2 linked regions of the Homo sapiens genome follow. The protein of the gene in region 1 interacts with the protein of each later gene in a biochemical or structural test. Each region holds a gene or a part of one and is shown in the gene's direction. Other genes may lie near its edges.

Region 1 (3,500 bases):
AGCCTCTTGGCGAGAGCCCGGCCACCGCCACCGCCACCGCCACCGCCACCACCCGCCCCAGCCCCACCACTCCCGCAATGCCCAAGATGGGCGTGCGCGCAAGGGTGGCCGACTGGCCGCCCAAGCGGGAGGCCCTGAGAGAGCACAGCAACCCAAGCCCCTCCCAGGACACAGATGGCACAAAGGCCACCAAGATGGCCCATTCCATGAGGAGCATACAGAACGGACAGCCCCCCACCAGCACCCCGGCTTCCTCAGGGTCCAAAGCCTTCCACCGACTCTCCAGGAGAAGGTCCAAAGACGTGGAGTTCCAGGACGGGTGGCCCCGGTCCCCCGGCAGGGCCTTCCTCCCCCTTCGGCACCGCAGCAGCAGCGAGATCACCCTCAGCGAGTGTGACGCGGAGGACGCGGGGGAGCCGCGGGGGGCCCGGCACACGGGGGCGCTGCCCCTCTTCCGCGAGTACGGGAGCACCTCGTCCATCGACGTGCAGGGCATGCCCGAGCAGAGCTTCTTCGACATCCTGAACGAGTTCCGCAGCGAGCAGCCCGACGCCCGAGGGTGCCAGGCCCTCACCGAGCTCCTCCGGGCAGATCCTGGCCCACACCTCATGGGGGGCGGCGGCGGAGCCAAGGGGGACTCCCACAACGGGCAGCCCGCCAAGGACAGCCTCCTGCCACTGCAGCCCACGAAGGAGAAGGAGAAGGCCCGGAAGAAACCTGCGCGGGGCCTCGGCGGCGGGGACACGGTGGACTCGTCCATCTTTCGGAAGCTAAGGAGCAGCAAACCCGAGGGGGAGGCTGGGCGTTCCCCGGGGGAGGCCGACGAGGGCCGGAGCCCCCCGGAAGCCAGCAGGCCGTGGGTGTGTCAGAAGAGCTTCGCCCACTTCGACGTGCAGAGCATGCTGTTCGACCTCAACGAGGCGGCCGCCAACAGGGTGTCGGTGTCGCAGCGGCGGAACACCACCACGGGTGCTTCGGCCGCTTCCGCCGCCTCGGCCATGGCCTCCCTCACGGCCTCGCGGGCCCACAGCCTCGGAGGCCTGGACCCGGCCTTCACCAGCACAGAGGACCTAAACTGCAAGGAGAACTTGGAGCAGGACCTCGGCGATGACAACAGCAACGACCTGCTGCTCAGCTGCCCGCACTTCCGCAATGAGATCGGGGGCGAGTGTGAGCGCAACGTGAGCTTCTCCCGGGCTTCCGTGGGCTCCCCGAGCAGCGGCGAGGGCCACCTGGCAGAGCCCGCCCTGAGCGCCTACCGCACCAACGCCAGCATCTCGGTGTTGGAAGTTCCCAAGGAGCAGCAGCGGACGCAGAGTCGGCCCCGGCAGTACAGCATCGAGCATGTGGACCTGGGCGCCCGCTACTACCAGGATTACTTCGTGGGCAAAGGTGACGGATGGCGTGTGGGTGGGAAGGTTGGGTGGGCCGAGGCTTGCCTCCGAGACCCCCACTACTCATTCATTCACTCTGTGCCAGGCCCTGCTCTGGCACTGAGGATGTGGCGGGAACAGAGACCTCCCTTCTGGAGGGCTGTGAGGATCCGGTGAGCAGAGCCACCCGGGCCTCAGCCCTGTGTCTGACACAGCAGCACTCCATAAACCTTGAGCTACAGGACACAGCTCTGCATTTACTCAGCACATATGGACTTGGGGACAGCTCAGTGCCAGGCACTCTCTAGAGCCTGGGGATGTAGTATCAACCAGCTTAAAACAAATGTTCTGTCTTCCTAGTACTTATAATGTTTTCATGGGTAACACAAACATAGAACAGGATAAATACGAAAAATACACAAGGGATTGTAGGCTGCTAAATGCAGTGGAAAAGAGTACAGCAGGGAAGAAGGAAATGGAGTGTCGGAGGGTGGGGGCAGATCCCAGTGGGGGATGGTCAGAGGGGGCCTCCGAGGCAGGTGCAGTTTGAGTACCAAGCTGAAGTCACCATGTGCAAATTGCAGACACTGTTCCCAGAACAGAGCAGCGAATACAAAAGTCTTGGAACTGCCCGGCGCAGTGGCTCACGCCTGTAATCCCAGCACTTTGGGAGGCTGAGGCAGGCGGATCACTTGAGGTCAGGAGTTCAAGACCAGCTTGGCCAACATGGTGAAACCGCATCTCTACTAAAAATACAAAAAAATTAGCCAGGCATGGTGACATGTGGCTGTAATCCCAGCTACTTGGGAGGCTGAGGTAGGAGAATCGCTTGAACCCAGGAGGCAGATGTTGCGGTGGGCTGAGATCATGCCACTGCACTCCAGCCTGGGTGACAGAGTGAGACTCTGTCTCAAAAAAAAAAAAAAAAAAAAATTGAGAATTGCTTGTAACTGCTAGTAACAGGCTTAAACAACATAGAAGGGACTCTCCTGTGAAGAAATCCAGAGTTCAGCAGCCCAGGGCTGGTATGGTCAGTCTTAAGCATCAGTATGGTCAGCCTTAGTGCATGGCATGATCCCCCACTGCTCCACACCAAGATGGCTGCTGGAGTGCCAGGCGTCACATCTGTGTTTCCAGGCAGAGAAAAAGAGGAAAGGGTAAGGACAAAAAGGCAGACCTCTTGTCAAGTCAACCCCCTTATGCCCTTATGCCTAGTGTTTCATTATTGGAACGCTAAGCATGTGGGAGTTATAGCCTACTGCTCAAGGACATTGCCAGGGTCTGAATTTTTACTTGTGGAAAAATTCAAAAAATTGCAGCCTCCGGCATAAATGCGTTAAAGAGCTTTCTCAGAAGCCCGGTCCAACTACTTGCACTTAGTGGCCACACCTGTGTGCAAAAGAGGCTGGGAAACGCAGGTTTTTAGCTAGACAAAGTTTTTCTTTTCCAAGAATAGAGGGCTTTTCTTAAAAAAAAAAAAAAAAAAAAAAGACGAAGTACTAGCAGCTAGTACCCCACAGCAGCTAGGTTTTTTTTTGTTGTTTTTTTCTTTTTCTTTTTTTTTTTTTTTTTTTGAGGCAGTCTCGCTCTGTCGCCTCGCCCAGGCTGGAGTACAGTGGCGCGATCTCAGCTCACTGCAGCCTCTGCCTCCTGGGTTCACGCGATTCTCCTGCCTCAGCCTCCTGAGTAGCTGGGATTACAGGCGCTCGCTATCATGCCCAGCTAATTTTTGTAGTTTTAGTAGAGACAGGGTTTCTCCATGTTGGCCAGGCTGGTCTCGAACTCCTGACCTCAGGTGATCCACCCACCTTGGCCTCCCAAAGAGTTGGGATTACAGGCGTGAGCCACCATGCCCAGCTCACAGCAACTAGTTTTTAAAAATATTTAAAGTAATATCCTTGTCAAACATAACAAATGTCAGTTAAGTCATCCCACAGGACACTGGAGCTCCAACTTGGAGTCAGACAGCCCTCGGTTTGGGGTATCTGTTCCATAGCTGATCCACGTGATACGTTTTACCCTTCAGACTGTGTGACAAATGAAGATGATTATATCAATATCACATGCACAAACAGAATGACACAGAGATTGAAAAGAAAGGGATAAAAAAGAAGTTCCAGGCCGGGC
Region 2 (3,500 bases), on another chromosome or scaffold:
CTCCCCAGTCATCCACCCCATGTCCCCCATCCCGCCCCCTCCCCACCCCACCCACATACACACATCCAGCCTTGGGGTTGAGGGGCCCGACGGGAAGATCAAGGGTAACAACTAGGTTGGCAGTGGCTGCTGAAGCCAGGTGGAGAATTCTGCATGCGGGCCCTGGCTCATGGGGAGAGTTCCATGAACAATTAGCAGTGTCTGCTGTGGGCTTGGCAGGGGGTCTTGATGGCACATGGGCCACATGTTTGCCATCCTGGCCCCTCTGGGTAGGACAGTCTCTGAATGGCAGCCCCTGTGGGGCTGAAAGAGGCTTTTCCTTAAAGTCCATCTCTGCCCCACACAACTGGCGTCATCCTCTCAGAATCGGGGGGTGGCAGCTTGCCATCTCCCTTTTTTTTTTTTTTTAGCTCAGTGAGCCATGATTCTCCCCAGCTTGTGGATTCCTCCCACCCCAACTGCATCCCACCTTACTTCTTGCCGGAACTATCAGTCTCCTCCCTGAGGAGGAGGAGGAGGAGAGGAGGTACAGGCCCCTACTCTGATCCCAGGGTATTTAGTTTTCCTCTACCCTGAGCAGAGGGCAGGCAGGACCTTTCCATTTAAGCTTCTGTTGACCCTAAGGATTGGGCAGCCAGGAGTGGGAGAGAAGTGGACTCTCTCTCCTCCTCCAGGACCCACCGGGAAGGAGGACCCGCTTATCCTCTGGCCTGGTCTCAGCAGCCTGATCCTGGCAGGTCACAGGGCTTCTGGATTAGCTGGTTTTACACCCCAGGGGCATCAGAAATTACCTGGCACCTCACACATGTAGACATAAGGAGCCTTGGCCTCAGAGCCCCTAGGAGCCTGAGCGTCTGTGCCGCCATCCCCTGCCCTTCACGGTGCTCAAAGTCACAAGCTCCCAGAGGGCAGGAGGCACACCTGCAGAACCAGTGTGAGACAATGGGTCCCATTTAGAGGCACTGCCACACGGCCCCAGCGAGCATGGCCCTGAAGTCAGGGCTGCAGAGGGTGCCCAGCGGGTGCCTGAGCAGAAGCAGCCCCTGTTTGAGTTGGTTCTGCAATGAATAGGGAGGGACGTGTTGAGGGACGCCTCTTTTGCAGAGGTGAGAACCCTGTCTATGGTGCCAGGGTGTCTGGGAGCGAAAGGAAACCTCTTTGAGTGGTTTGTCTCACCTGGGCTAATGCTGGGAGCAGCCCAGGTTGCTGTGAGAGGCAGGGACAACCTAGAATCCTTGGGTTCCAGCAAGTTTGGGAAAGAAAAATGGGCCTCAGTGGCCGAGCTGCGTTCATCTCACTGTGTTTGCTCCCCACACAAGGTCAGGTGCCAGAGTATACAGCTGGCCCCTGCTGGGAACCCAGTGTAGAATTCTCACAGTCTCCCTCTGTGCCAAACGCTGTCAGGGGAGGGAATGACAATTCTTGTCATTTTGTCTCCATGCCATACTCCAAAAAGGTCAGATCCTGGGATGTGGAGCTGCCCAGGATTCTCGGTTGGCACAGGAGCTTGAGAGTTGGTGTCCCCTCAGGCAAGGACAGAGGAAGGACTAAGTGACCCCTGGTGAGAGAAAGCTGAGGCTCCAGGCAGCTGGGCTGGGGGAGAGTGAGAGAAACGGGCCTGCCCTCCTCGGCTCCCTGGAGGCCTCTCCAGAATTCGCCAGTGGCCCCCCCGGGGCAGAGGTGAAAGTGGAGTCATAGGTTAGCCCTGAGTCTTAGGCCGCGCGGGCCCCTCGGAGAAGCAGGGATCCGGAGCCCTTCCACCCACTTTAAGGCAGGAGAGAATTGGGAGGTGTGGAAGCAGCCCCTGGAGGCTGCCCTGCAGTGCCTCTGGAGCGACACAAGGGGGCGACAGCTGCCGTTGTGGGAGGCCGGTGGGCGAGGAGCTTCTCCTTCCGCCAGTCCACAGGCCCACGGGGACCCACAGGCACTCGCTGGAAGTTACCTGCAGCTCTAGCTGCCGGGCGGAGCCAATCAGTGCGGCCCAGGGCAGGCTGGGTGGGTGCCTCTAGCCTCCTGGCCCCACCCCTCCCGTCCCCTGAGGCCCAGGCCCAGCCAGGTGGCCTTGACTCAGCCAAGTTCTCGCAGCTAGCCGGGGTCATCTGGGACTCCCGCGCTGGGCTTCCAGGGCCATGTTCATTAAGGCCTCATCACAGGACCCAGGACAGGCTGACCACCTCTCCTCCCTGCCCCCTCTGCCTCCTCCTTGAACAGCCCTCTAAGTCAGCTGCGGGGGCAGTGTGTGCAGGAAGCGGGATCTGCCACACCTGCGGCCAGGTTCTTCCGCTCCCCGAGTTCCTGGGCCACCCCTGAGCGGTGCCAGGCACTCATTCCTTGCTCTTCTTGGCTCTCCTCTGTTCCGTGTCGGGGTCAGCCCCACATCCAGCCTGCAGTGTGGGTTTCAGCACAGGACTTGGCTGGCACTTGGGTCACAGGTGTGGAGGGTAGGCCAAAACTAACCAAATGCCCTGGAAGAGCTATCATTCTGCCATCTTTCCTCTTCACCCCCTGCCTCGCTGAAACACCAGAGACGTGGTTAGGTCGGGAAAGCAGGTTCGAGTGAGACCAAGGGCTCTGTGGCCGCGGAGGGGAGGGAGAGGCTGAAGAGACAGGAGTGGCGTTCCAGCTCCTCTGTCTTTGGTGATTAACAGCTGCCAGAAGCTTGTAAATTCATCAGTTTCATGTGATCTTCATAACATCTTTGTAGTTGGTTTGATTCCCATTTTGCAGATAAGAAAACCAAGGCTCAGAAAGGTCAGGGGCCTGGCCAGGATCCCCCAGCTCACACTGGAGCCCAGCCCAATGATCTTCTCATGACATTGGGCCACTCTACTTAGGAGTACTCTTTTCTTCTATTATTTGCCATCCCTAAACTGGGAAGACCTAAGAAGAGGTTTGAGTGCTCCATGGGGTTTAGTGAAAGGTCTTTGCCTCCGGTGCCAACGGTGTGAGACCCATGAGATAATCTGACCTGGACCCCCAAGGGAGAATGGCCACCAAGATCCCTCAAGTCAGGGGAGCAGGCTGGACTGGGAGAGACCCTTGGTAAAGAGACTGGGGCTGTGAGCCCGTCATCATGTGGCGTCCGGGCTGGGTCTGGCGTGGAGGACAAGTCTGATCTTTTTCCTTGCTTTAAGGGCGCAGGGAGTCTAAAGCCCAATGGACATGCTCAGAGGAGCCCCCATACCACCCAGGGGTCGGTGGCTGGTCTGGGGCAGGGAAGATCGCTTCACTCGTACCCAGTGCCTCATGGTGAGAGGTCTGAGAGGAGAGGGAGGGCCCCAGCATCCTCCTCATCTACACTGAGACCTCCTCCCCTTGCTCCTGGCAGAGCATCAGTTCAGAGCTCCCACGTAGAGGCCTCTCCCCTGCCAGGGATGAGCCCATCTCAGCACATGCCAAAATAGCTGTCTGGGAGCCTGGGCCCGCACCGCCCACACCCCAGCATCTCGCGGGTTAACAGCTTGCCTGTCTCTCCGCCCCCTTCCCCAGCTTGCTGACAT

What was found. Proteins that work in one complex are often made in the same cells at the same time.
Region 2: the proteins of SIPA1L3 (region 1) and DGKZ interact in a test that uses a peptide from one of them, tested with the Homo sapiens proteins (one large-scale study listed by IntAct).

The regions. Positions count from the first base shown.
Region 1 is NC_000019.10:38,081,708-38,085,207, forward strand, and holds part of SIPA1L3 (signal-induced proliferation-associated 1-like protein 3), read left to right. Parts: coding exon 1-1,392; intron 1,393-3,500. UniProt on the Homo sapiens protein: Plays a critical role in epithelial cell morphogenesis, polarity, adhesion and cytoskeletal organization in the lens.
Region 2 is NC_000011.10:46,350,463-46,353,962, forward strand, and holds part of DGKZ (diacylglycerol kinase zeta), read left to right. Parts: intron 1-3,500. UniProt on the Homo sapiens protein: Diacylglycerol kinase that converts diacylglycerol/DAG into phosphatidic acid/phosphatidate/PA and regulates the respective levels of these two bioactive lipids.